3 linked regions of the Homo sapiens genome follow. The main gene of each other region encodes a partner of the protein of the gene in region 3 in a complex. Each region holds a gene or a part of one and is shown on either strand. Other genes may lie near its edges. The genes, in order: RABGGTB, PTAR1 and YKT6. A codon is read from its position in the direction of its gene.

The links.
Region 1: the proteins of YKT6 (region 3) and RABGGTB are in contact, whole or in part, in a crystal structure (PDB 6J7F), measured with the Homo sapiens proteins. Residues at the interface, in NP_006546.1 of Homo sapiens: Lys60, Gln62, Asp63, Leu65, Asn83, Glu84, Tyr85, Pro86, Ser87, Leu153, Asn155, Thr156, Glu158, Arg189, Lys190, Cys194, Cys195; in NP_004573.2 of Homo sapiens: Thr3, Pro4, Gln5, Lys6, Asp7, Ile9, Lys11, Tyr37, Leu45, Trp52, Leu236 (codon at 4,869), Asp238 (codon at 4,875), Cys240 (codon at 4,881), Arg281 (codon at 5,004), Gly283 (codon at 5,010), Asp284 (codon at 5,013), Met285 (codon at 5,016), Asp287 (codon at 5,298), Phe289 (codon at 5,304), His290 (codon at 5,307).
Region 2: the proteins of YKT6 (region 3) and PTAR1 are in contact, whole or in part, in a crystal structure (PDB 6J7F), measured with the Homo sapiens proteins. Residues at the interface, in NP_006546.1 of Homo sapiens: Met1 (codon at 2,919), Ser29 (codon at 2,835), Phe30 (codon at 2,832), Phe31 (codon at 2,829), Asn83, Glu84, Pro86, Gln131, Asn132, Pro133, Arg134, Gln180, Phe184, Arg189, Ser193; in NP_001093136.1 of Homo sapiens: Glu31, Gly33, Leu34, Ile35, Pro36, Val48, Val50, Glu51, Lys53, Leu54, Gly55, Ser58, Lys135, Tyr191, His225, Ser228, Met229, His230, Val231, Ser232, Asp233, Phe298, Asp301, Leu302, Ser305, Tyr306, His309.

Annotation. Positions count from the first base shown.
Region 1 is NC_000001.11:75,789,216-75,795,650, forward strand, and holds the end of RABGGTB (geranylgeranyl transferase type-2 subunit beta), read left to right. Parts: coding exon 1-141; intron 142-261; exon of another isoform or gene 262-332; intron 333-736; coding exon 737-842; intron 843-936; exon of another isoform or gene 937-1,059; intron 1,060-1,230; exon of another isoform or gene 1,231-1,302; intron 1,303-2,069; coding exon 2,070-2,122; intron 2,123-2,245; coding exon 2,246-2,356; intron 2,357-2,965; coding exon 2,966-3,091; intron 3,092-4,868; coding exon 4,869-5,018; intron 5,019-5,294; coding exon 5,295-5,435; 3' UTR 5,436-5,871; downstream 5,872-6,435. UniProt on the Homo sapiens protein: Catalyzes the transfer of a geranylgeranyl moiety from geranylgeranyl diphosphate to both cysteines of Rab proteins with the C-terminal sequence -XXCC, -XCXC and -CCXX, such as RAB1A, RAB3A, RAB5A and RAB7A.
Region 2 is NC_000009.12:69,756,922-69,764,680, reverse strand, and holds the start of PTAR1 (protein prenyltransferase alpha subunit repeat-containing protein 1), read left to right. Parts: upstream 1-4,669; 5' UTR 4,670-4,742; coding exon 4,743-4,828; intron 4,829-7,759.
Region 3 is NC_000007.14:44,195,980-44,204,054, reverse strand, and holds the start of YKT6 (synaptobrevin homolog YKT6), read right to left. Parts: upstream 3,078-8,075; 5' UTR 2,920-3,077; coding exon 2,816-2,919; intron 1-2,815. UniProt on the Homo sapiens protein: Vesicular soluble NSF attachment protein receptor (v-SNARE) mediating vesicle docking and fusion to a specific acceptor cellular compartment. Functions in endoplasmic reticulum to Golgi transport; as part of a SNARE complex composed of GOSR1, GOSR2 and STX5.

The sequences.
Region 1 (6,435 bases), on a different chromosome or scaffold from region 3:
ATGGATCTCATGGGACAACTTCATCGCATGAATAGAGAAGAGATTCTGGCATTTATTAAGTCTTGCCAACATGAATGTGGTGGAATAAGTGCTAGTATCGGACATGATCCTCATCTTTTATACACTCTTAGTGCTGTCCAGGTAAATACTAATCAAAATTGCAACGATCTTGATAGTATGTTCTCTTACTTCAGAGTTGGAAATTGAAACTGTATCAGGATTTGGTCAAAAAGTTTTGTTACAAGTGAAGCTGTCCTACAAGGTCAATGATGTAATGGCATGTATTAGCTGAATCTAAAGTTGATGTGAGTTCTAAAATTACACTGAGACCTTGGAGGGTAAAATTTTTATCTTCAGTATGTGTAAATACTGTAAAATAGCTAAATGGAGCTATTTGATTTTGATATTAGTGAACATCTACCTGGTGGTTTAAAGTCTTTCTGGTACTACTGGGTGCTGAGATGGGAAGATCAGGACTTTGTGTGGATGTGAGTTAGTATACTTGAGTATCTTGGAATGCCAAGTTAAAATTTATATGTAGAAAATTATACTTTAAAGATTTGAGTTTTCTTGATACTATCTAATTTTATTCAATAACAGGAGAGTCTGCATATTTGAGAAAAGGTTATATACACAGAGACAAAAGGATGTGCTTGACAACTTAAAAAGAGTTGAGCATAAGATCATTAGAATAAACCTGAAAGGGACATTTACCTAATACTTGTCTTTATTGCAGATTCTTACGCTGTATGACAGTATTAATGTTATTGACGTAAATAAAGTTGTGGAATATGTTAAAGGTCTACAGAAAGAAGATGGTTCTTTTGCTGGAGATATTTGGGGTAATGTCAGATTTAGTCCATTCTACCCAAAATACCAATATTAAAATGTACTGGTTTTGCTAGTAACCAGTTTATAAGTTTTTCATCTTTTCAGGTCCCACTAAGCAGCTGGTCTAACTGGAGTTAATGGTCTGCTGGAACTTCCAGCATGCACTGTGGTAGTTATATCAGCATATACAGGAGCACTGGAACAGAGGGGGCCAGTCTAAAAGATAAGGTAGGTGGAATTTTTTTCCCCAATATTTGGTGGCTTTGTAAAGTTTTTTAAAAACTACTTGCTGGAAAGGGAAAAATATTTAAAAAAAAAAACTTTACAAACTTGCTGAATATTTGAGTGGAGGGAGGGAATAGAATTTTATTTGATAAACGTAGATAATCTCTGCTTTAGGGATGAACACAGTGCAGGCCAGAGAGACCAGCTGCTTCATGGGATGTGAAAAATCTACTTTTATAAAGTAGGGTAAGTTTATTTCATTATTAGAAATGGACTAATACTTTGGGTTCTATTAGTTTTCTTCTCTTTGGTTTTCTTCTCTTTCTGGGCTTTCTTTAAGCAGCTTAAGATAATTTGCTGTTACTTTTTTGTGGCAGGGTCTTGGCTCTGTCCAGGTTGGAGTGCAGTATTTTGGGAGACAGTTGCTGGGGCTGGAGAGCTCTGTTGCCCAGGCTGGAGTGCAGTGGTGCAATCTTGGCTCACTGCAACCTCCACCTCCCAAGCTCAAGCAATTCTCCTGCCTCAGCTTACAGAGTAGCTGAGATGTGCACCACAACACCTGGCTGGTTTTTGTGTTTTTAGTAGAGATGGGGTCCCCTGGCCTCATGTGATCCTCCTGCCTCGGCCACCAAAAGTGCTGGGATTTCAGGCCTGAGCCACAATGCCCAGCCCCACCTAATTTTTTTTAAAAAGTTTTTTGTAGAGATGGGGTCCCATTATGTTGCCTCGGCTAGTCTCAAACTCCTAGGCTCAAGTGATTCTCCCACCTCAGCCTCCCAAAATGTTGGAATTATAGGCAAGAGCTACTGTGCCTGGTCAATTTGCTGTTATTTTTGACAAAGGAATTTTCTTGGGAAGTAAAGGCACTTCAGATTTAGCTTTCCTCCTGACTACCCTAAAGTGAAAGTTAAGCTTGAACTCAATTTAAAGTGGTAGTTGTGCAGTGTTTGTTTTTAGATGACTCATGTATGATTTGGTAACACCTGCCTTGATTTGATCTATTTTTATTGTAGGAGAAATTGACACAAGATTCTCTTTTTGTGCGGTGGCAACTTTGGCTTTGTTGGTAAGCTTTGAATATTTGATTGAAATGATTAAAGTTCATGAATACTCTGGAATTTTTTTTTTTTTTGAGTCTGATCTGCTGAATACTCTGGAATTTAACAGGCATCTTTTTTTTTGTTTGTAGGGGAAGCTTGATGCTATTAATGTGGAAAAGGCAATCGAATTTGTTTTATCCTGTATGAACTTTGACGGTGGATTTGGTTGCAGACCAGGTTCTGAATCCCATGCTGGGCAGGTAATTTATGAATACAGATGAAAATGTATTGTCATTTTGGAAGCCAGTGTAGTAAAATAAGAAAATTGGTTATTTCAGTGTTTGTCAAATACACATAAAGTTAATTCGACTGTAATAGGGCATCTTACATAAGAATTGCTTAATTGCTATCATTACTTTGCTTTATATACTATATACCTTTCTCTGTCGGTGGATTCGTCTGACCTAAGCAAACATAAGTGGGTTTATAAGCACCAAAACACTTTTGTTTTCCATTAATTTTTCACTAACCATACAGATAAAAAAAAAAACAACACATTTTTCTTTCTTTCCTAAGATAAATTATGAACCTCTTTTCTTGTGCCAGAGAACACTGAATATGTGAATGGATGGCTGTGAAATACTAGCCATGAAGAAATTTTGACAATAATATTTCAGTGCAGAATTGCATACTAGTAATAGTATGCTTGGATTTTTTCAGATATGTGGTATTAATACATGTTTGGAATTTTAAGTGTCAGATCAAGAAGAAAAACTTAAGATATAAAGTGGTGTTTTAATAATTTGAGTTTTATCACTTTTAATGTCAAGAAATTATTATACACATAAACTTTATGTCTGTAATTTTAGATCTATTGTTGCACAGGATTTCTGGCAATTACAAGTCAGTTGCATCAAGTAAATTCTGATTTACTTGGCTGGTGGCTTTGTGAACGACAATTACCCTCAGGCGGGCTCAATGGAAGGCCGGAGAAGGTATTGTTTGATAAGCCATATTCTGCTAGCTTTAGAACCTTGAGTGAATGCTGCTGCTTTGTCTTGCCTGTTTCTATATTGTAAATTGGCCATGAGCTTATTTATTACCTTTCCCTGTTGTGAATTTTCAGTAATATATCCTACTAAAAGACTCCCCTTGACAAAGTAGACCCCCATGAGTTGAAATACTCATTGATCCTAATGTCCATTTCCAGACAGTCTTGTACAGGAATCTCCATGTTTAAGGACAGTTGATTTTGGCAAATTGGATTTTTTAAAAATTAGACTACAGAATTTTTGTTTGCAATCTTCTTATTTAAGGAATACCCAGATAATTTGGTTTGGAGAGAAGATTATTAAATTTTCCTCCACATAATAGGTCTCTCTTATCAGGTCTGTAAGGGACAAATAGTGAATACTCATTTGCAACTATGTAATTGTCCTGTAGAGCAAGTGCAGCCATAAGTGGTAAGAAATGAATGAGTATGGCTGTGTTCCAATTACAATTATTATGGATGGATATACTTGTATTTCCTATGTCAGATGGAATCTTGCTCTGTTGCCCAGGCTGGAGTGCAGTGACGCCATCTTGATTCACTGCAACCTCCGCCTCCCAGGTTCAAGCAGTTCTGCCTCAGCCTCCCAAGTAGCTGGGACTACAGGCGCACGGCTAATTTTTGTATTTTTATTAGAGACGGGGTTTCACCATATTGGCCAGGCTGGTCTCAAACTCCTGACCTCGTGATCTGCCTGCATCAACCTCCCAAAGTGCTGGGATTGTAGGCGTGAGCCACCGTGCCTGACCCAGGACTATATTTAAATGATTTATAAATGTAAAAACTATTCCTACACTATAGATTTGACTCAAGGATTGTAGCTTGCTGTGCCCCTGCCCTCTGAATGGGACGTGGTGGTACAGTAGCTGGGATTACAGTCATACACCACCACGCCCATCCAATTTTGTATTTTTAGTAGAGATGGGGTATCACCATGTTCATCAGGCTGATCTTGAACTCCTGACCTCAGGTGATCTACCCGCCTCAACCTCCCAAAGTGCTGGGATTACAGGCGTGAGCCACTGTGCTCGGCCTGTATTTTTATTTTTAAACCTTAGTATTTCTGAATAACAACGGGTAGAGAAACACCCGCAGTAGCTGTCTACAATAGAGTGAAATAAAAAGCCTGAGGAACTGTCAACAGAAAAATGGGTGGCCGTGGGGAGCACCGGGACCTGCACTTGCACACAATCTAGGGCAGCTTCTAATGAGTCTATGAGTTACTCAGGGATCTCATTAAAATGAGATCAGCCTTGAGTGGGGTTTTCTTTATAGACTTCTGTCACCATATTTTGAAGAGCAAGGGTTTAGTTGATTTTAAGCAGGTGTGTACCCCCCTGGACAGTGCTTGTAGAAAAACAGAACTATACCCATGGATTTCATGATTATACTGCTAGCTTCTTGGTTAAGGGGCTGAGTTAGGCATTCATTGCAGATAGAAACAAAGCAGATGCATGCTTATCAGTGAGTACTGAGATATTTAGCATGGTTACCTATGAATTGAAGTTTGGTCTCTTCTTACCCATTAATTGATTATCTTTCATTCTAAGCAAGTATTTCATACCCTGCATATCAGTATATCCCTGGATTTCGTCCTTCCACATGGTTTGACACTTTGAACATCAGATTACCTAAGAGTGAGACTTAACCCACTTTTAAATTGTTCTCAAAATTAGGGAAATAAAAGAGAATGAAATTGTGGCAACTTTTTTCCCTCCTAGTTACCAGATGTATGCTACTCATGGTGGGTCCTGGCTTCCCTAAAGATAATTGGAAGACTTCATTGGATTGATAGAGAGAAACTGCGTAATTTCATTTTAGCATGTCAAGATGAAGAAACGGGGGGATTTGCAGACAGGCCAGGAGATATGGCAAGTAATATTTCTGACATATTTCTATAAATTATTTCAGCGTTTGCATTACTTCATGGTTCCATGGATTTCCAGGGTGGCATTCCGAGTGTTGCTTTGAAAGCAGTTTTTTTTTCTATTTATTGTAGAGTGTATGAAGGATATAGAACAATCTTACAGAAATTTCTTGTCGCTTGTTGCTAACAAAATTAGTATATGGTAAAGGTCAGGTATTCATAATTTGAAGTTAAAGAAGTTTTCATTTTGTGATCTGTATATAAATTCTTTTTTAAATAGGTGGATCCTTTTCATACCTTATTTGGAATTGCTGGATTGTCACTTTTGGGAGAAGAACAGATTAAACCTGTTAATCCTGTCTTTTGCATGCCTGAAGAAGTGCTTCAGAGAGTGAATGTTCAGCCTGAGCTAGTGAGCTAGATTCATTGAATTGAAAGTTGCATAGTATAGTTTTGCCATTTTAACATTTCTGTATTTGAAGTGCTTATCGAATCTAAAAGTGACTACTGTTAATATTTTGTATATTGTGTTAAATTAATTTTAATAAATTATATAATTATACATATTGTAAAATAAAGACCGGTATTTTATTTTCTGCTTTTTATTCTGAAGTCCTGTTATTCTGACTACAGTTCTTTGTGTATACTTCTGTGTCTGTTATGTTCAATAACTGAGCTAACATAAAATAACTCTAGGTTTCTACTTGATTTTTCCCCCATGTATACCTTTCATCTGTTCTATAGCAAGTTGATGTAAATTGGTTTGTCAACAAGAATGTTAACTGATGAAAGTGGATAGAACCCATACATGAATTAAATGATGCACAAAATAAATGGCTGTTGAAATTTGGAAATGATTGATAGGTTTGAATATGGTTATTCTGAATTGGTCACAGACTTAGGTTAAATGGCAATCTACCATCTTAAAATGGGGTTGTGATTCGGACTGTCCTTTTTTTTTTTTTTTTTTTTTTTTTTTTTAGCATTTTATATATCAGAATTACCCAAAGAAGGAGTTGTCTTCAAATAAGGAAACACTAACGGGTAAGTTGATGGTCACCACAGTATTTTTTTGCACCTGTCTTTTTCTTAAAAAGCTAAAATGGGTACAATCACTCTTTTTTATTTTTTTGTGACAGAATCTCTGTTGCCCAGGCTGGAGCGCAGCAGCACGATCTCAGCTTAACTGCAACCTCCGTCTGCCGGGTTTAAGCAATTCAGCCGCAGCCTCTCGAGTAGCTGGGACTACAGCCGCACACCACCATGCCCGGCTAATTTTTATGTTACTTTAGTACAGACAGGGTTTCACCATGCTGAGGAGCTGGAGACCAGCCTGACCTTGTGATCCACCCACCTCGGCCTCCCAAAGTGCTGGGATTACAGGCGTGAGCCACCACGCCTGGCCTAAAATGAGTACAATC
Region 2 (7,759 bases), on a different chromosome or scaffold from region 3:
AAGAAACGTGTGGTTTTTGGGAGTGGGTAGGAAGATTGTCAAAATATATTCACAACCATGTAAATGATAATAATAGACATGGTCACTTAAAAAAATCAATATATCTGTAAGAAAATTAGTATGCACATAATATATTTGGCTAATTAACAAACAAATATATCAGCTCCTTATTAATATATAATTTAAAAAACTTTTCTTAGGCCAGGTGCAGTGGCTCAAGCCTGTAATCCCAGCACTTTGGGAGGCCGAGGTGGGTGGTCAGGAGTTGAGGTCAGGAATTCGAGACCAGCCTGGCCAACATGGTGAAACCCAGTCTCTACTAAAAATAGAAAAATTAGCCAGGTGTGGTGGCGTGTGTCTGTAATACCAGCTACTCAGGAGGCTGACACAGGAGAATCGCTTGAACCTGTACCACTGCACTGCAGCCTGCACGACAGAGTGAGAATCCGTCTCAAAAAAAAAAAAATTCTTAAATTACAAATGTTACTTTGCTCTTTACATTACATAGTCAAATTGTCCTATGAAAATACCTCTAACACTTTGGTATATATTCCTCTAGTTATAATGTGATTTTCATGTGGGGAAAAGCAAGAGAGATCAGATTGTTACTGTGTCTGTGTAGAAAGAAGTAGACATAGGAGACTCCATTTTGTTATGTACTAGGAGAAATTCTTCTGCCTTGAGATCCTGTTAATCTATAACCTTACCCCCAACCCCGTGCTCTCTGAAACATGTGCTGTGTCAACTCAGAGTTGAATGGATTAAGGGCGGTGCAAGATGTGCTTTGTTAAACAGATGCTTGAAGGCAGCATGCTCGTTAAGAGTCATCACCACTCCCTAATCTCAAGTACCCAGGGACACAAAAACTGCGGAAGTCCGCAGGGACCTCTGCCTAGGAAAGCCAGGTATTGTCCAAGGTTTCTCCCCATGTGATAGTCTGAAATATGGCCTCGTGGGAAGGGAAAGACCTGACCGTCCCCCAGCCCGACACCCGTAAAGGGTCTGTGCTGAGGAGGATTAGTAAAAGAGGAAGGAATGCCTCTTGCAGTTGAGACAAGAGGAAGGCATCTGTCTCCTGCCTGTCCCTGGGCAATGGAATGTCTCGGTATAAAACCCGATTGTATGCTGCATCTACTGAGATAGGGAAAAACTGCCTTAGGGCTGGAGGTGGGACCTGCGGGCAGCAATACTGCTTTGTAAAGCATTGAGATGTTTATGTGTATGCATATCTAAAAGCACAGCACTTAATCCTTTACATTGTCTATGATGCAAAGACCTTTGTTCACGTGTTTGTCTGCTGACCCTCTCCCCACAATTGTCTTGTGACCCTGACACATCCCCCTCTTTGAGAAACACCCACAGATGATCAATAAATACTAAGGGAACTCAGAGGCTGGCGGGATCCTCCATATGCTGAACGCTGGTTCCCCGGGTCCCCTTATTTCTTTCTCTATACTTTGTCTCTGTGTCTTTTTCTTTTCCAAATCTCTCGTCCCACCTTACGAGAAACACCCACAAGTGTGTAGGGGCAACCCACCCCTACATTTTCAAATACTAAATAGCATCTTACCATATAAATTTATAATTTAATCAATCCCCTCTCATTGGGCATTTAAGTTATTTACTGTATTTTATTATCAATAAATGAACATAAATCTTGTAGTCCTTCGACAAAATCACGCTGAATTTATTATGCCCTATTCTTGTATACATATATATCATTATTGAGGATTTATGAATTTCAAATCTTAAATCCTTTGGACTTCTGTTTTCTTATCTGTAAAATTAGAGAGTTGGCTCAGAGTTCTAATTATGCTCCAATTCTAAAAAAAAAAACAAGTTCTAAACATAGTAGATTCTTAATAATTGGGGTAAAACAATTTGTGAATTCTTAGAGGAAACAAGATACAATGCATGCCTTTCAAATGACTATAAAGAGGTTGCATGTGGAGAGGGCATACACAGAATCATACAGAGGAATTCTGTTTCTGAAATAGCTGTTTTACATCAAAATTTGGGGACAAAGTTTTCTTTTTTCCCTGTTAAATAAAGCCTTTCGGGGAAAATCATTATTTCTGAGTGTGCTGCTTTGATCTCTGCCTCCAGAAATTGGGATTTATTTCCCACTGCCATTAGGATGCAAGGTCCTGATTAAGAAAACTTACTAAGTTTAAGAATTTTAATTTAAGAACTGGTCTTACATTCTTAATCAGGATATTTAAAGTTGTCTTTTGCCTTGAAATCTAAACACACATTCCACTCTTTTCACTGCTTCACTCCAGAACTTGTTATCGGTTAAATTTTGATTGATTTTACTAACTCTTTTTTTTTCTTTCTTTTTTTTTTTTTTTTTTTTTTGAGATGGCATTTCGCTTTTGTTGCCCAGGCTGGAGTGCAGGGCACAGTCTTGGCTTACTGCAACGTGCGTCTCCCGGGTTCAAGCGATTCTCCTGCCTCAGCCTCCCAAGTAGCTGGAGCTACAGGCATGCACCACGACGCCCAGCTAATTTTGTATTTTAAGTAGAGACGGGGTTTCACCCTGTTGGCCAGGCTGGTCTCAAACTCCTGATCTCAGGTATCCACCCGCCTCGGCCTCCCAAAGTGCTGGGATTACAGGCGTGAGACACCGTGCCCGGCCGACTTTACTAATTCTTAATCCTGTCCCACCTTGCTGGCTACAATTTTGTGAAACTTCTATCTCACTTCTTTTTTTTTTTTTTTAGATGGAGTCTTGCTCTGTCGCCAGGCTGGAGGGCAGTGGCGCGATCTCCACTCACTGCAACCTCCTACTTCCGCGTTCAAGCGCTTCTCCTGCCTCAGCCTCCCAAGTAGCTGGGATTACAAGCACGTGCCACCACGCCCAGCTAATTTTATATTTTTAGTAGAGACGGCGTTTCACTGTCTTGGCCACGATGGTCTCGAACTCCTGACCTCGTGATCCTTCCGCCTCTGCCTCCCAAAGTGCTGGGATTACAGGTGTAAGCCACCGTGCCCGGTCCTATCTCACTTCTTTTACAACCAGAAGGCTAACTCCAGCCTTTATAAACATACCCACAGGAAATACTGGCCACTGAGTATAGTAAATTTATATTTTTCGTTTATATTTCTCATTCACTTTACATGCAATAGATAGCTTTTACTTTTACAATCATAAAAACTACTTCAAACGCTCCGCATATGTTCACATTAAACACACCATGAGTTTATTTTTTTAATAGCTTTTTAAAGATACAGATTTCTTTTTTTTTTTTTTTGAGACAGAGTCTCGCTCTGTCGCCCAGGCCGGACTGCGGACTGCAGTGGCGCAATCTCGGCTCACTGCAAGCTCCGCTTCCCGGGTTCACGCCATTCTCCTGCCTCAGCCTCCCGAGTAGCTGGGACTACAGGCGCCCGCCACCGCGCCCAGCTAATTTTTTGTATTTTTAGTAGAGACGGGGTTTCACCTTGTTAGCCAGGATGGTCTCGATCTCCTGACCTCATGATCCACCCGCCTCGGCCTCCCAAGGTGCTGGGATTACAGGCGTGAGCCACCGCGCCCGGCCTTTTTTTAAAGACGGAGTCTCGCTCTGTCGCCCAGGCTGGAGTGCAGTGGGGAGTAGCTGGGATTACAGGCGCCCGCCACCACGCCCGGCTTTTTTTTTTTTTTTTTTTTTTTTGTATTTTTAGTAGAGACGGGGTTTCACCGTGTTAGCCAGGATGGTCTCGATCTCCTGACCTTGTGATCCGCCCGCCTTGGCCCCCCAAAGTGCTGGGATTACAGGCGTGAGCCACCGCACCTGGCCAGATTTCAAGGGTGGAAGAATAAAACTGAACCAAGGGCAGCCAGATTTTTCTACCAGAGGTGCAAAAGAAAACCTGATACACAAAAATTTTAGTTATGGCATTTCAAAATCCTAAATAAACTAGAAAGCTCGTTTTTCCTACAAAAATTTATTTTTGCTATTATGAACAAACCCTGTCAGAGCCTTGATCCTTTTTTTTAAATTCCAAAATTGACGCAAAGGCTACCAAATGCAGTACAAAATGAAGTCGAAAAATCTAAAAACGATTTCACTTCTACTTCCTACATACAGATGGCAAATAACTTTTCCTTCACTTTCCTTTCTCTTCCTTTAATAAATTTAAGAATTTTAATTAATGTTTTTTAAAAAGGCTGCTTTCAAGTTCAGAGACAAAAATTGGCACAGTTAGAAAGGAGGTCACCAACACGGTCAAATAGGGACTCGCTCCGCCGCAATGCCTCTGGACCTCTTCATCTCTCAGGCTGGGAAAATAAAGCAGACAAGCTCTGAAAAACGCCCGGGACTAACTGTTAAGAGGCCCTGCATCCTCAGTTGAACATTCCTTCAGGAATGCCCGGGGACCTTGCTGGGGGGGTTCAGGAAGGTGTCTGACTCTCTGGGAGTGTGTCTTGAGGTTTCGCCTAAAACTTAAAATAAGAAAATCGGAGGCCTGAGAGAACTTTGCAAACAAATGTCCAGCATCTTCTCTGACGCTTAGAAAGTCCGTTACCCGCGCGGAGGCGAACTTCTCCACTCACTGGAAGGCCACCAACCCTAGCTAACGCCACGCCCAGGCCGCCAACTGGCTGACCCGGAAGTGCTCGGCGGCGGCCGCGGCGGCGGGGACGCGGCCTAGCCGAAGCACCCGCGCGCGCGCGCGCGCGCTCGTTCTCCGCGGAACTCCCGCCGGCGGCCCGGCTCACGCGGAGGCGCGCCCGAACTGTCGCGGCCGCCGCCAACATGGCCGAGACCAGCGAGGAGGTGGCGGTGCTGGTGCAGCGGGTTGTGAAGGACATCACTAACGCCTTCAGGAGGAACCCACACATGTGAGTCGCGCGCCTCCGCCGCCTCCGAGGGTCGTCGGGAGCGGGCGGGGGCGGGGCCAAGCGTCCACCCGACCTCGGGCGGCGGGCGGACAGCGGGTCCTGGCCCACGAGCCCTTCTAGGGAGGAGGCAGAGCCGTGTCGGGCGGGACCGTTGTCGGCCGCCGCTGGCCCGGCTTTCCGCTACCGGGACGCGCTCGCGGTCGAGTCCCTAGAAGTGACCTCAAAAAATCAAAACGGAACTACTTTCTCTGTCCCTCCCCACCTTTTCATAGGAGTTCACGAAACTCCAGAGACGTCCCCCGTAGGTCGACATCCTTCCTGTGTTTAAGGTACTCGGGCGCACACAACGATGTGGGTCCGTGTATGCCTTGTAAACACAACTCTTGAGATTCATCCCGGACGTTGGCAAGAGGGGGTAACCGATCCTCTTACTTTTAATGAGCCTCAAACCCCTCAGTTTACTAACTAAAGGTGGTTTGAGGCTGCTTTTGACTTTAGCCTTACTTGCCACAAAATTGTAAAGTGACTCCGATAATACATTGTGTTTTGAAAGGTGAACAGAACATTCTCAAGAGAAGCTTCTGTGGGCGCAGTGTGGAGTCTGGGATAAAGCAAATGAAACCTTGATACTTTTTAGCATAAGCGGATTCATAGTTACAAGGAGCATGTTAACTCATTTTTATCCCAACACTGCTGCCCTCTTTAACGGGACACTGCAGAACTGACATATGTATCTCTTCCATTTTACTTGAAGTACTGTGGGAAGATACCGCAAGAGTCTACTTTTTGTAACACTTTGCTTTTATGTAACAAGTGAAAAGAAAGCTATTGAGAGAGAGAGAGAGATCTACATTATACAAAGGTGTAGGGAAGAAGCAACAATGTACCTCCTTTCCCATACCTCTTCCTCCTCAAAGAAAAGAAACATGGCATCCAGTTCTGCATTACTTTCATTTTAGCTAGTTGTTTTTGGAGTTTATTTTTTTTTTTTTTAGTTTATTATTTTTTATTATTATTTAATTTATTTTTATTTTATTCTTTAGACTGGAGCTCATGATTTTTTTTTTTAAGTATTCTAACCGGTTCAGCTTTTCTGCCTAAAAAAGTTGCCAAACGTGTATCTTACCAAAGTGTTCTTTTCCTCCAAGGTGATGATTGTAAAACAGTTAAGAAGCCGTTGGATGTTTTGCTCCCTTGTGGCACACAATTGGAGACGTGCAACTGTGCCACATTAAAAACAAAACACTGCTGGCCTCAAAACACACCTGCCACCTCTGACAGCATCCACTTCCCTCCCCCTTATGACTGCTGCCTTTTTCAAAATGAGAGTGTTTGGAATGATTTCCTGGCAGTATCCATAGTGGTTGCTGAGCCTTCTAAAGAATGCTTTGATGCCTTGCTGTATATCAGTCTTTCGATTTCTTTTTGAGAATGGGAGCCTTAGTGCAAGTAAGAGACGACCTCAAAAAAAAAAAAAGTTGGACAAATGAAGAGTGTATTTTCTCATCACTGGTATTTTTCTAGAAGAAATTACAGCAGAGATTAGAAATCTAATACAAAATGTCGTAATCATCTTATGTTCTCTTCTTTGAGGTAGACTAAAAGAGCATCATTATATTTGAAGAAACCAAGATTGAATGTTCATTGGCTTGGCAGTTTTTAACACAGTGCAGTTTGGAACATGTCCCAGTTCTTGTGGATCACATTTATGGAAACTCTTAAAGGACTTTAATGCCCCTCCCTAATCCTTTTTCTACTGTAAAACCTCATTAATATATCCTCAATGTATAATTTATTAGTAATAAGGATTTGGGTCATTCGAGATTTAAAACTTTGAGATAAGTTGGATATTCGGAATAATGTAATGATTTGTAATATAGGTCTTAAACATTTAAATAGCTTAACTCATTGTTTAAGACTAGTCATCAGCTATATTTGAATACATATTCCCCACAGTAAAACTATTTTCAATAATATTACTATGCATCTTTGTAAGTGCCTTATAATTTGGGCTTTTAAAAATTGCCTGCGCTTTCTTCCCTTAATTTAGCCCATTTACTCCCAAAATAAAGAGGCTGTGTTTCTTTTTTTTTTTTTAAGGCATTGTTTATCTGTAACGTTTGTATCTAACTTTACTGTATCTAATTACACTTTCAGTATTATACAAAAATTTTTTTGTTTTTCTTGTCCAAACTTAAGATCGGTTGTAATTTTATTGGCCAACATCTACTTCATTAAATACATTGACTTTGTTTATGTAGAAATATTTAGCCAGAAGGAGTTGAGGATGCAGTGGTGAGATGTGGATTTTGTTACTGTATGATGTGAATAGGTACCTTCTCTCAGCCTCAGTTTCCTCTTGATCTTGTGAGGCTGATGAAAACAGGAAAATCACCTCACACAGTGGTACTTAGTTGCCACTCAATAAATATTAGACCTTCCCTGAATCTCTGTGTTCCTCACCAAAAATATATTGGACAAATGATTGGTGAATATGAAGCACTTTATAAACCTGGATAATACTATATAAATGCTGTTTGTATGGTTGAGTATTAGATAATCATATTGGATTCTCTAAAACTGAAAACTTGACCTAGGGATAGTCTTTAACTTAGTGTATGGACCCTGTGCTAATGTAGAAGACAACAGTTTATAATGTAAACAGTCACGTTAAAATTAATCTTATCCAGCAAGTTATTGTTTTTTCTATTAAATATTGAACTCACTGTTTATGAAGTGTTGTGGGTACCATCTTTACTGTGTGAAATAGAAGTTTAAAATACAGTTCTTGAACCCAAGGCACTAACAGAAATTTCTGTAATGGTGGAAATTTTCTGTGTCTGTGCTGTTCCATATGGTAGCCACTAGCCATAGTAGCTATTGAGCAATTGAAGTGTCCCTAATATGAACAGGGACCACATTTTAAATTTT
Region 3 (8,075 bases):
AACGAGCGCAAGACACTCTGGATGGAACAAAAGGAAAACTGCTCATCCAAGACAAAGAAGTGGGAAATGGCTCATACAAAGGGTGAAAGGGAGAAGGTCCATCATGGGCTCAACAGAGAGATCTATCCAGAACAGAACAGTCACAGGAGATGGTACAGCCAGAGGAAGAGGTGCTGACAAGGAGCCTCCAACTGAGGATGTGATATAAAGGGCAACCAGGGCCATCAAAGCAGGGTGCTCAAATGGGAGTCTGCAGCAGGCTCCAGCAGAGCCATATAGGTAACTGAAGGCCTGACTCTGGGCCTGTGTGCTGTGCCTCCACATTAAAAAAATCAAGATTTGTGCAACAGTTAAACGAGGTAATACGTGTAAAGCACTTGGAACAATGCCTGCACACACAGTATTACTTGTTAATATCTTGAGGGACTGAAGTGATCAAAATAACCCCTCAGAAAAGAAGACCTCAAACAAGGAAGGCTTTGCAGTAAACCTAGAGACAGCATTTGAGACACGGCTATAAAGAGACAAAGGAAGAACTGCATTGTGACAGCATGTATACAAAGACCAAAAAAGCTGGGAAACTACTTTTTCAACTTTGGAATCGGGTAATTATAGGGCACAAAGGACGTAAGTAAAGCGGTCTTATAAGAAAACAAGCTCAGGCCGGACGTGGTGGCTCAAGCCTGTAATCCTAGCACTTTGGGAGGCCAAGGCAGGCGGATCACTTGAGCTCAGGAGTTCGAGACCAGCCTGGCTAACATGGTAAAACCCCATCTCTACTAAAAATACAAAAATTAGCCGGGTGTGGTGGTGCGCGCCTGTAATCCCAGCTACTTGGGAGGCTGAGGCAGGAGAATCACTTGAACCCAGGAGGCGGAGGTTGCAGTGAGCTGACACTGTGCCACTGCACTCCAGCCTGGGTGACAGAGCAAGACTCCATCTAAAATAAAATAAATAAATAAATAAATCAGCTGGGACATGTGTTGTTTTAAGACATATTAGTAGAGATGTCCCTTTAGTGTTGCAGCTGTTAGTCATTGGAAACTAGTGTGGGCATCCCAAGCAGGTGAGGTATAAGTCCTACAAGTGAAATCTCTGAGAATCTTAAGTACTAATGGGAAGGAAAAAGGAAAAAGAATCAGAGCCAAGTTGGCACCAAAAGTTCCATCTGAGAAAAGCAACAACACAGAGCAGTGAATGTAGGCCATGGTAAAGACTGCAAAGACCAAGAACCCCAAGAAGGAGCTAAAAGATAATGCAGCAATTCCGCTTCTGGGTAAATACCAAAAAAATGCGAGCAGGGTCTTGAAGAGATATTTGTACATCCATGTTCATAGCAGTATCATTCACAATGGCTGAAATGTGGAAGCAACCCAGGTGTCCACTGACAGATGAACAGATAAGCAAAATGTGGTGAATAATACAATGGATTATTCAGCCTTAAAAAGGAAAGAAATTCTGATATATGCAACAAGATGCATGAGCCTTGAGGACATTATGCTACATGAAATAAGCCAGACACACAAAAACTATATGATTCCATTTATCTAAGGTCGCCAGAAAAGTCAAAATCACAGAGACAAATTAGAATGGCAGTTGCCATGGGCTGGGGGAGAAGGGAATGTGTTTAATAGACACGAATTTGATAAAAAGGAGTTCTGGAGACGATTGACAGTGATGGCTGCACAACACTATCAATCTATTTCATATCAATGCACTCACTACACGCTTAAAGATAGTGAAGATAAATTTTGTGTACCATTTTACCACAATTAAAAATATTTTTTTAAAAGAACTCAAAGAAGCAGAAAGTTTCAACAAAATAACATTTTTTTTTTTTTACATCCAGCAAGTCCTTGGCAAAGAACTCTCATCAAGAACCAGCTGCACTGAAGCAGGGAAAACAGAATCCAAACGGCAGATTCCATCAGATTTTGAGACAAGATGACCATAGATACCGACCATGTAGGGTCCTCCTTCTTTCGTGCCTGAGTCACCCCAATCCCTCCCACGAATGGTCTGGAAGTGTCTGTGTTACTTCTAACACGTTCCAGCAATTAAAGCGCCCCAGAAACAAGTAAAAGCCTGTAAGCCCTACAGATCCCATGCTTCATTTGCATCTTCCGTGTGGAATCCTTTTGTACCACTAGTGTCCAACTAAAAAGCGTTAAACCTGGCTTTCAGTTCTAGCTGGTTGTGATATAACCTCTTGGTACCTCAGTGACTTCACCCATTAAAAACAAACAAAAAAAAGTATATCACTATCTCTCATACAGAATTGTTGGGAAGCCCCGCAAGAAAATCAAAATATGGCTCTCAAGATGCGGCACCCAAGCTCCCAGAGTCAGAATCACTGGGTGGGAAGTGTTGGTCTAAAATATAAATACCGAGGCCTCAATCTACTAATTCAGAACATCTTGGCATGAAGCTTGGAAATCTGCACTACTTCACAGTCTCCTTAAAATTTTTACACGACAGAAATTTGAAAAACACTGAGTAGAGAACTATATTCTAGAATGGTATAAGCTCTTAAAGAGCTAATGTTGGTTCCTCAAAGGTAGAGTCCACGGCCAGATTCCATTATAGGAGACCAAGCCCGGACAGCAGACCCCGGGCCCTCCCCACCCCGCCCCGCCTCTGACTCGGACACCAGCCTTCTCAGACCCCGGGCACTCGGCCACCCCGCCCTGCCCCTACCCTTGGCCTCCTCCACCCTCCCCTCATCCCTCCGCCGACCCCAGGCCCACTCCGACTCGGACCCCCACCCCAGTCCTCTCCGCCCGACCGCCACGGCCCACCAGCCTGTGCCGCTCACCTGGATCTCTGGAAAAAGCTGAAGGAAGACACATCGTATGCGGCTTTGAGCAGCACCACCTTGGCCTCGCCTTTGTAGAGGACGCTGAGGCTGTACAGCTTCATGGCTCCGCGCCCTCAGGCCGCCCGCCTGCCCAGCTGCGGGACCCGTTCTCAGGGAGCAGCGCGGCCGCCGCCCCTCGGGACCGCCGCCGCCTACCGGCCTCTCAGCAGCCGGCTGCTGACGGGGCCACCGCCGGCTTCCTCCTCCTGGCTCGCAATCCACTTCCGGATCCGGTCAGCCTGGTTGAGGGTTCTCATACTCCGGATGCAGAAATGTGAGCCCGGAAGTACAATGCAGCGAGGGGCGGGATGCCACGCCTCGCGTAAGCTTGGCCCCTCCCTGCTCGCCAGGTGGAGTCGGGCGCGCGGCGGGATACCGTACTGTCTTGTGCTGGGTGGTGCTGGGCCTCCCACAGCGGCCTGAACCCTTCTTTTTTTTTTTTTTCTTTTCTTTCTTTTTTTAAAGTAAGCATTTTTTTTATTATTATACTTTAAGTTTTAGGGTACATGTGCACAACGTGCAGGTTTGTTACATATGTATACATGTGCCATGTTGGTGTGCTGCACCCATTAACTCGTCATTTAGCATTAAGTATATCTCCTAATGCTATCCCTCCCCCCTCCCCCCACCCCACAACAGTCCCCGGTGTGTGATGTTCGCCTTCCTGTGTCCATGTGTTCTTATTGTTCAATTCCCACCTATGAGTGAGAACATGCGGTGTTTGGTTTTTTGTCCTTGCAATAGTTTGCTGAGAATGATGGTTTCCAGCTTCATCCATGTCCCTACAAAGGACATGAACTCATCATTTTTTATGGCTGCATAGTATTCCATGGTGTATATGTGCCACATTTTAGGAGGAGCTTGTACCATTCCTTCTGAAACTATTCCAATCAAAAGAAAAAGAGAGAATCCTCCCTAACTCATTTTATGAGGCCAGCATCATCCTGATACCAAAGGGTGGCAGAGAGAGACACAACAAAAAAAGAATTTTAGACCAATATCCTTGATGAACATTGAAGCAAAAATCCTCAGTAAAATACTGGCAAACCGAATCCAGCAACACATCAAAAAGCTTATCCACCATGATCAAGTGGGCTTCATCCCTGGGATGCAAGGCTGGTTCAACATACGAAAATCAGTAAACGTAATCCAGCATATAAACAGAACCAAAGACAAAAACCACATGATTATCTCAATAGATGCAGAAAAGGCCTTTGACAAAATTCAACAACCCTCATGCTAAAAACTCTCAATAAATTAGGTATTGATGGGACGTATCTCAAAATAATAAGAGCTATCTATGACAAACCCACAGCCAATATCATACTGAATGGACAAAAACTGGAAGCATTCCCTTTGAAAACTGGCACAAGACTGGGATGCCCTCTCTCACCACTCCTTTTCAACATAGTGTTGGAAGTTCTGGCCAGGGCAATCAGGTAGGAGAAGGAAATAAAGGGTATTCAATTAAGAAAAGAGGAAGTCAAATTGTCCCTGTTTGCAGATGACATGATTGTATATCTAGAAAACCCCATCGTCTCAGCCCAAAATCTCCTTAAGCTGATAAGCAACTTCAGCAAAGTCTCAGGATACAAAATCAATGTGCAAAAATCACAAGCAGTCTTATACACCAATAACAGACAGAGAGCCAAATCATGAGTGAACTCCCATTCACAATTGCTTCAAAGAGAATAAAATACCTAGGAATCCAACTTACAAGGGATGTGAAGGACCTCTTCAAGGAGAACTACAAACGACTGCTCAATGAAATAAAAGAGGATACAAACAAATGGAAGAACATTCCATGCTCATGGGTAGGAAGAATCAGTATCGTGAAAATGGCCATACTGCCCAAGGTAATTTATAGATTCAATGCCATCCCTATCAAGCTACCAATGACTTTCTTCACAGAATTGGAAAAAACTAAAGTTCATATGGAACCAAAAAAGAGCCCGCATTGCCAAGTCAATCCTAAGCCAAAAGAACAAAGCTGGAGGCATCACACTACCTGACTTCTAACTATACTACAAGGCTACAGTAACCAAAACAGCATGCTACTGGTACCAAAACAGAGATATAGAGCAATGGAACAGAACAGAGCCCTCAGAAATAATGCCGCATATCTACAAGCATCTGATCTTTGACAAACCTGACAAAAACAAGCAATGGGGAAAGGATTCCCTATTTAATAAATGGTGCTGGGAAAACTGGCTAGCCATATGTAGAAAGCTGAAACTGGATCCCTTCCTTACACCTTATACAAAAATTAATTCAAGATGGATTAAAGACTTACATGTTAGACCTAAAACCATAAAAACCCTAGAAGAAAACCTAGGCAATACCATTCAGGACATAGGCATGGGCAAGGACTTCATGTCTAAAACACCAAAAGCAATGGCAACAAAAGCCAAAATTGACAAATGGGATCTAATTAAACTAAAGAGCTTCTGCACAGCAAAAGAAACTACCATCAGAGTGAACAGGCAACCTACAGAATGGGAGAAAATTTTTGCAACCTACTCATCTGACAAAGGGCTAATATCCAGAATCTACAATGAACTCAAACAAATTTACAAGAAAAAAACAAACAACCCCATCAACAAATGGGCGAAGGATATGAACAGACACTTCTCAAAAGAAGACATTTATGTAGCCAAAAAACACATGAAAAAATGCTCATCATCACTGGCCATCAGAGAAATGCAAATCAAAACCACAATGAGATACCATCTCACACCAGTTAGAATGGTGATCATTAAAAAGTCAGGAAACAACAGGTGCTGGAGAGGATGTGGAGAAATAGGAACACTTTTACACTGTTCGTGGGACTGTAAACTAGTTCAACCATTGTGGAAGTCAGTGTGGCGATTCCTCAGGGATCTAGAACTGGAAATACCATTTGACCCAGCCATCCCATTACTAGGTATATACCCAAAGGATTATAAATCATGCTGCTATAAGGACACATGCACACGTATGTTTATTGTGGCACTGTTCACAATAGCAAAGACTTGGAACCAACCCAAATGAACCCTTCTTTTTGCTTGCGTTGTTGAAAGAAGGCAAGTCTATGGATAGGAATGAGTGAGGCACAGCTCCCTGAGGATGCCATATCTTGCCCGTTTCTTGTGTATTAAGTGACATCACGTGTTACCAAACTAAACCGGCTGCATTTGCCTGCGCACAACATAAAACCAAACACCCAAGCATTGGATTTTTGTAGCAAGAAAGATGTATTGCCAAGCAGCCTTGCAAGGGGACAGAAGACGGGCTCAAATCTGTCTCCCAATACTTGCTTCGCAGCAGTAGATTTAAGGGAGAGATTTTGGAAGTGGAGTTTCGGGCTGGACGGTGATTGGCTGAAACGAAGAAGTGTTTAGAAAATCTCTTGGTCATGAGCTGTTGCTTCTTCATGCTGCTTCAAGGGTCACATGCAGATTCAGGAGGTGGTATAAAACAAGCTGTGGGAATTTGGGCTGTGACATCAAAGGGCCGCTCCTCGGGCTAGTAAGTCTATTTTGCACAGGCTCCAGTCAGCCATATTGGTTCCAACCTGTTCCAGCAAGTTGTATAAGCAGAGGGGATTATAGCAAACTGTTTCCTTATCGGCTGCCCTGCAAGACAAGCTCAAGATTTCTGTTAGTTACCAGTTTCTTTAACCCTGTCGGGCACAGTTTCACATGTAATCAGAAAGGAACTTGCAAGACACATACAACTGAAAGAAACTTGGTCTTTGGAAGTTGTCAGTAAGGTCACAAAGTTGTGATGCTAGAAGCAGCCGTATCTGAGATTATGGGAAAGAGATGATATATTGGAAAAACAACAGCATCACTTTAAACATTACTCTAAATCAAGGTTTCTCAACCTTGGCACTATTGACATTTTGGGTTAGATAGTTCTTTCTTGTTGGGAGACTGCCCTGTACATTGTGTAGGCAGCATCTCAGGCCTTTGTAGAAATGTCAGTACCAACCCACCCCCTCCCCACTGCACAATCAAAAACGTCAAAATGTCCTTTGGGAGCAGTAGTTTTGAGAAACATTGCTTTGCAGATATATATGTTTGTTTGTTTGTTTTGCTTTGTGACAGGGTCTTACTCTGTTGCCCAGGCAGAAGTGCAATGGTGTGATCCCACTCACTGCAACCTCTGCCTCCCAGGTTCAAGCGATTCTCATGCCTCAGCCTCCCGAGTAGCTGGGATTACAGGAATGCATCCATACACGCGGCTAATTTTTGTATTTTTAATAGAGATGGGATTTCACCATGTTGGCCAGGCTGGTCTGAAACTCCTGGCCTCATGTGATCCACCCACCTCGACCTCCCAAATTGCTGGGATTACAAGCTTAAGCCACTGCGCCCAGCTGAGAAACATTGCTTTAAATAATCTGTGGTGAAAGGAAGTTCCCACCACCTGCCCACTCACTCAGTACCTCTGTCACCAACCCTCTTCCCTGGGTGTTTCCAAGTACAGAGGGTGGAAAGGGCTTTTCCACATTTCCCCTGTTTTGGTAGTAAACATTAGGAACAGCCATTGGCCGTGGCTAGGCTCAGCCACCCACAGATATGGACACAGTAGTCTGACAAGCTGGGTTGCTGGGTGCTATCAGTCCAGGCTCAACTGCTTGCACTGACACCATTTCCCTATAGGAGGCAGGTGAGAGCCATTTCTGAGGAAAGTCTCTGGAGCCCCTCTTCCTTCCACTGAAAGTTGTGCAAAAAGATCAGGAAGACAGCGCTTGGATGGAATAAATTTCAGTGTATCCACTTGACACATTATAGTGGCTGTCCCAAAGTTTACCTTATGCCAAGTACTTTCCATGTGCCACATCATTTAATCCTCACAAAAACAGGGGAAAATATTATTGCCACCCTACAGACATAGAGACTGAGATTCAATTTAAGGAGATGGTTGGTAAGGGACAGAGTTGGGGTTCAGATGTCAACAGTGAAATGCTTAACAAACTGTCATGCAGCCCACTCCTGGCAACTCTTCCTGCTCCTCTCTGGCCTCACTCAGCCTCTACTGTTCCAGGAAGCCTCATTCATAGTCATGTGGTTGCAGACTTCCCAAGCTCACTGTGTTACCAAAAAGCAAGACCTGCCTTCTGCTGCATCGCCCCAGCTGTCACCCAACTTGGATTCAGTCCCAGCACTGACACATCACAAAATCACAAAAGTGAGCAAACCATTACCTCCCTGAGTCTCCTTTTGTTTTTATC